Regions from separate parts of the Homo sapiens genome. Here region 2 is linked to region 1. The links come from fine-mapping of genetic effects on gene expression. A gene starts in region 1. The other region holds a variant in brackets. All regions are shown on one strand. Distances are between the middles of the regions. Region 1 holds the start of TNS1 (tensin 1). Region 2 overlaps TNS1 (tensin 1).

Region 1 (2,897 bases):
TTCTGGGGTTTCCCAGGTAGATGTCTTGGGTGGTCCCTGGGCTGGGAGTTGGCACAAGTGGCTGGGCAGATCCCTGTGAAAGAGGAGGCTGGTAGTTGCACGGTATGTGGTGCTGACAGACAGCGGCATGGCATGGCCTTGGGTGAGTGGGGGGGGGAGGCAGGGGATCTGTAACCCTTCGTGCATGTGGCCCCAGGGCATGTATAGCACAGTGTGCATAGGAGGCCAGGCAAGAGAACTTTTCTTGCTAAGTGACTCAGTCTAGGAACGAGGTCTCCAAGTGCCTACTCTGGGAGGGCTCTTATGTGTTGACGTGAGTTGGACTGTGTCCTTGTGTGTGTGTGTGTCCACAGGAGGGTGTGGGGCTGAGCCCTCCCTCCTTCTCCTGGACAGCTCCAAAGAACAGAGCGGGTGATTCACTGGCCCCCACCCACCCTCAGTTGGTCCAGCCAAGGCCAGAGCTCAAAGAGGAAGGGTTTTTTTTGGAGGGGAACGTGGTGGTTCCAGACAATGAAGGCCTGGGGCAGACTTTGCTGGATTCCCCCTTAGTGCTCCGTGGGAATACTTTTGGGTTTTGACCCAGCCTCCTTTCCACCCTCTAGACCCCCAACAATTGTCCCTGGGCAGAGGTGGGGGCGAGGGGAGGGGAGGGCTGGTGGGCAGGGGACACTGAGGGGAAGAAATAGGCCTGTGGAATGGTGGGAGGGGAGAACTGGGCCCAGGGAGGGGGAGAGGGGAGGAGGGGGAGGAAGTGGGGAAATGCAAACCAAATGTTGGCCCCGGGTACAGTCAAGAAAAACACACTCTCGCGGGAGCCTGGAGCGGGGCTCCCTTTCAGAAGGGCAGGAAAGGCTGGGACAGATGTTTGCAGGAAAGAAAGAAAGAAGGGGGAAAAAAAAAGAAATAGGAAAAAAATTGGAATGAAACCCACAGCCTGGGGGCAGGGCCATTCTTCCCCAGTCTCGGGCCCTATTTCTTCTGTGTTAAGGCCTGTCCTGGGCTCTGAGCTTGGCGCGTGGGCACCAGAGTCTGTCCCAGTCTGTGTGTGCAAATGCATGTGTGTTCCGAGGAGGCCAGGAAGGCAGGCACGGGTACTCAGAGAAGGGGAGGGGCCAAGGCACCCTGAGTGTGCTGATTGTGTGGGCCTGGGGCTGTCTGTTCATCCATCAGTGGTCTGGAGGGTTCCAGGAGTGAAGGCCCCCAGGCTGGTTTGCCAGGGGCGGGGGTCTGCAGTGAGGAGGGAGGACTCCAGGCCTACCAGCACCAGATCAGAAGACTGAGGAGCCTTGGTGGCACACAGGGGTTGTGTGTCCGGGGGTGGGGGGCACGGCCTGGGGGGGCCCTGCCTCTGGTAGCTTTCCCTTTTCCCTGTCCCCTTTACACCCCCTGCAAAGCAGGGTTCCTGACCCTCAAGGCCACCGGTGGAGCCTGGGAGGAGGGAGGAGAGAGGAGGCTGGGACGAGGGGTGGAGTGGGGGGAGGAGGAGGAGGAGGGAGGGTGAGCTGGAGGCAGCAGGGCGAGAGGCCCAGCAGATGCTGGCGGAGCCGGAGCAGCCGCGGACTCAGAGAGCCCTTCTGCCAGCGCCGCGGGGACTCTAGCTTCAGGGGCTCTTCACAGGCCCTGGGCGTGCCTCAGTGACGGGACCCAGCAAAGATGACGTGGATCTGTCTGTCCTGCATGCTCTGGGTAGGTCTGGCTGCTTTAGCTGCGACGTTACTCTTCCTCAAACCCCCCGCCCCCCACCGGCCCCTGCCACCTTATCCTTTTGCTGAGAGCCCGGGGTCGGGGGGTGTCAGTCTTGAAGGAGGGGCCTTTCTGTCTCTGACCTACAGAAGGACAGACTGACTTGAGCAACCCTCAGCCGGAAGACTTTCCCCACCAACAGGGCCCAGGCCCAGGGTCCCGGGTCAGTACATCCCCTGCCCCACCCCCCCACCCCCCAATGGAGTCCCAGAGCTGTAAGTGGAAGGAGGCCACAGAGAAGTTTGCTTCTCTTTAGAGCCTTTCCTCCCGACTTGCATCCTACAATGGGGTGAAAATTCTTCACCGCCCCCCCTCAGTTGCTGAGCCCAAGATCTTGAGGAGGAGGCAGTGGTGGGGCTGGGGAGCAAAGAATAGTAGTCCAAAATATTAAGTCTGGAAGAGCTGGGCTGTGGGAGAATTCTCAGAGTCCATCCCTTTTATTCCTTCTACACCCAGTTTCAGCTTCCACCCACTGCCATCCCTTCCTCCACAGCCCTCCCCTGCTACCAAGACCTCTCCATCCTGGAGGAGGGAGCCATGGCCCGCTCTTCCCCCTTTCTCTCTTGGCTCCAGGTTCAGGGAGGTGGGTTTCAGGATGGGGATGCCAGGGGGGCCAGCAGAGAGGCCTGGGGGCCACGTGGTGAAGGTTAAAAGTCTTAAGGCCAGACCTGGGCTGAGGCTCCTGGGTAAAGGGGGATGGGAGAGGGCTGCCTGCTGCAGAAGGGCTGGGGGTCAGAGGAGGAGAGGACCCCTTCCTCAGAGGGGCTCCTGTGGGGCTGTCTTGGCCAGGCAAAGGCATGCATGGGGTCAGGAGGGTGAGGAAGTCGTCCCTGGCTGAGGTTACTGTTGGGCTCTGAGAGAGTGATGGCTGGTTTGGGGGAGGGGGCTTCAGGGCTGTGATCCAGATGTGGCCTTTCCTGTCCCTTTCCTTGTTCTGGCCAGTCCTCGGGAGGGCCCTCTTGGCCCAGGCAAGCCCATGCTGGGGGCAGTTGTGGGAACACAAACTCGGGCAGCCAGGTGTCCTCTGGGCAAAGAAAGAAAGGGTGGGGGAGGGGGCCTGGAATGAGGCGGTTTGGGTGGCATGTTGGGCTGGGGTGCTGGGATGGATTGGATTAATAGATTGAGAGTGACTGGGGAGGCCTGCACACAGGATG
Region 2 (2,897 bases), 160 kb after region 1:
TTGAGGATGAGTGGAGAAGGAGTGAAGACAGCAAGCCAAGTACTCTTTTCAGTGGTTTTGTGATAAGAGAGGAGAGAGTGGTAGCTAAAGAGGATAGTGAGTGATTGGGAACTTTTTTGTAAATATAAGAGTCATGAGAATGTTTGTATGTAGAAGAGGAGGGGAGTAGGTTGGACATGGGGGGAGGAAGGATGAGAAAAAGAAGAGAAAGAAAGAAGTTGATAGAATAAGGTCTCTAAGGAGGTAAGAGGGGACAGGCCTAGGAGCCCATGTAGGTAAATTAGGCTCAACCAGGAGGTGAGATACCTCTTCATGAAATTAGAATAAAGGATAGATAAAGATAGAGGGAAATATTGATGTCAAGCTTTGGGAGCTTGAAGTGAAAACTCTTGTGTTTTTTTTTTTTTACATTTTGTTCTGAAAATAGGAGATGAGTTGAAGGCTCATTCAATCATTCGATTCAACATGAACTTCTAATGGGTGCTGCTTGCCAGTCTAGGCTTTGTGAAAATGGTGGCAAATAAAGATCCTTGCCCTTACAGCAGAGATGGATACTGAGCAAATAAGCACATATACATAGGATATGTCAGATAGGTGATACGTGCCATTGAGATAAAGCAGTGAGAGGTAGGGGGTGGCTGGCTGCACTTTACATGGGATGATCAGGGCTGGGCAGCGAGAGATGAGCCCCATGGAGCAACAAGTGCAGAGGCCCCGAGGCAGGAGTGTGCCTGGCATGGCTGGAGTAGAGTGATCAAGGGAGGCATAGCAGGACACAAGTTCAGAGAGGAAATGGGAACAGGGACAGCTTACAGAGGGTCTTTGAGGTGATTGTAAGAATGGTGGCTTTTACTCCGTGTGGCATGAGAAGCCTTAGGAAGGATTTGGGCCCAAGAGTGACATCATCTGACTTGTTCTGAATTGACCAGGGTGGGCAGGATGGAAGGAGGGAGAGCAGTTAGGTGGCTGCTGCTATTGATCTGGGCAGTGGCCATGGAAAGGGGAGAAGTGCTCGGATTTTAGACATATTTTGGAGGTAGAGCCAACAAGATTACTGATAGATTACACATGGAATGAGAGAGAAAGAGAAAAGTCAGAGACAACGCTTAGGTCTGGGGCCTGAGCAACTAAAGAATGGAGTTGCTCTTTATTGAGATGGGTAACAATTTATGAAGAGCAGTTTCAGGGGAACACTAGAAACATGACTTTTGGACACATTAAGTTTGAGATGACCATGAAACATCTGCAGTGGTTGGATAAATGAGTCAGGAGTTTAAGGAGAAGAGGCTGGAACTTAGAGATATGGGAATTGTTGACGTGTACATACCAGATTAAGCATAGCACTGGGCAATGTCACCGAGGGGTTGAGGACAGGTAAGGAGAGGTCCCAAGGATGGAGTCCTGGA[A/G]CCTCCCACATTCCAAGGCTACAGACAGGAGGAGGGAACCAGCATAGGAACTGGCATGGAGCAGCTTGTGAAGGAGAGGAAAGGTAACATAGCTTGAACTCTGGGGGCCAGGGCAGGGGCAATGTTGGCCACTCCTGTGGCCCCTGTGGTGTGAAGGTGGGTTAGAAGTCAACAAGGGGCAAGGAAAGGATAACATAGCAGGTCCTTCTAGTGCATCTGAGAAGGTTCATCTTAAGGACTTTTCTGGTGATGACCAGAAGCTGGGGGCCAGAGCAGAAAAGCACAAGGGGTTCCCCAGGAAAGAGGATCACTCAGATGGCTGTGGTAAGGAGCCAGGGTGTGAGAGAGGGTGACCCTTGGGCTCAGGCTGGGTGTGTTACCTGGGTCCAGGGAGAGGCAGGTGCCCAGGAAAAGATGGGTGGTCCAGGGACAGGCCTGCTGCCTATGGGAGCAGGTGAGGGATGCGTGAATTCTCCTGGTCCCACGATGGCACCTCTGCTTCCACCCTGGGGTTAGAAGAGAGGGAAACGCTGTGGTGCTGGCCAGCAGGAGGTCCATCTGCCTCTTGGAGAAGCAGGACCTTGGATCCCCCTCTCTTCCTGTCTGATACCTTCCCCACCTCCCTCCAGTGTGTGCCCAGATACCAGAGTCAGAACACCAACTAATCTTGATTTTCTCTTTGTTTTTGTTGTGTTTTGTCCTGTTTAATGCCCCGTCCCCTGCACTCTCTGTGTTTCCCATGTCCATCTGTTCCCTGTGCTGTTGGTGGGGTGCCTGCCTTGCCCCATATCCTCCCTTCCTTCCTGCCTCCCACTCCCTGCTGGCTCCCCTGGGGTGGGGGGTGGGCAGCGTACAACGCCAGGCTGCAGGGCATCGGACACAGTGGCAGCTTCCCGCCCCCTCCTCTCCACCGGCTCCAATCTTCCTCCCTCTCTGGTGGGTGGCTCTCCTTCCCCCTTCTCCCTTTCCAGCTCTTTGGCCCACTTTTGAGCATCAGTTTCTTTTCACTCCTTCTTCATGTGCTATTCCTTCCAAATCTTTCCCACCTTCTTCCTTCTCTCCTCTGTCTTTTCCTCTCCCTCTTCTGTTGTTCTCTGGTTTCCATCTGTTTCTCCTTCTCCTTCCCCATTTCTCACTATCCTCTCTTCTGTCTCCTCACTTACTTCTCCATCCCTCCTCTCTCCAGCCCTCTCTCCCTCCTGTCTGCATGAGCCAGAGCTCACTTCTGCATGAACATGGGCCTCATGCTAGCCTTGGCCTTGCCTGCTGGGAACAATGCCTGGAATAACTAGACTAACATTCAGGGTCCCCTGAGGAGATGCAGGCCTTTGCAATGAGGGTGCTCAGGAGGGCTCTGGACAGTCCAGCACTCCGGCCACCCTGGCCAGACTGCCTGGGCTGCAGGGCTAGGTCTCGGCAGGAGCCAGGCTGAGCTTTGCATGGGGCCACCAGACACAACACAGAGTGGTGCCCCAGCCCCTGCTGCTCTGT

What was found.
Region 2: its variant is fine-mapped to the expression of TNS1 in whole blood (TOPMed, PIP 0.95).

The regions. Positions count from the first base shown.
Region 1 is chr2:218,001,629-218,004,525 of GRCh38, reverse strand. It overlaps TNS1 (tensin 1), which reads left to right and starts at 1,531. Exons shown (of 33, transcript NM_001387777.1): 1 at 1,531-1,686. The coding sequence starts at 1,654. RefSeq lists enhancers at 246-345, 2,086-2,586, 2,587-2,897.
Region 2 is chr2:217,840,644-217,843,540 of GRCh38, reverse strand. All of the region lies in intron 19 of TNS1 (tensin 1), which reads left to right. Among named protein-coding and RNA genes, the nearest start is that of SNORA115, 8.4 kb to the right of the region's middle. The variant A/G (reference allele first, on the strand shown) is at 1,407.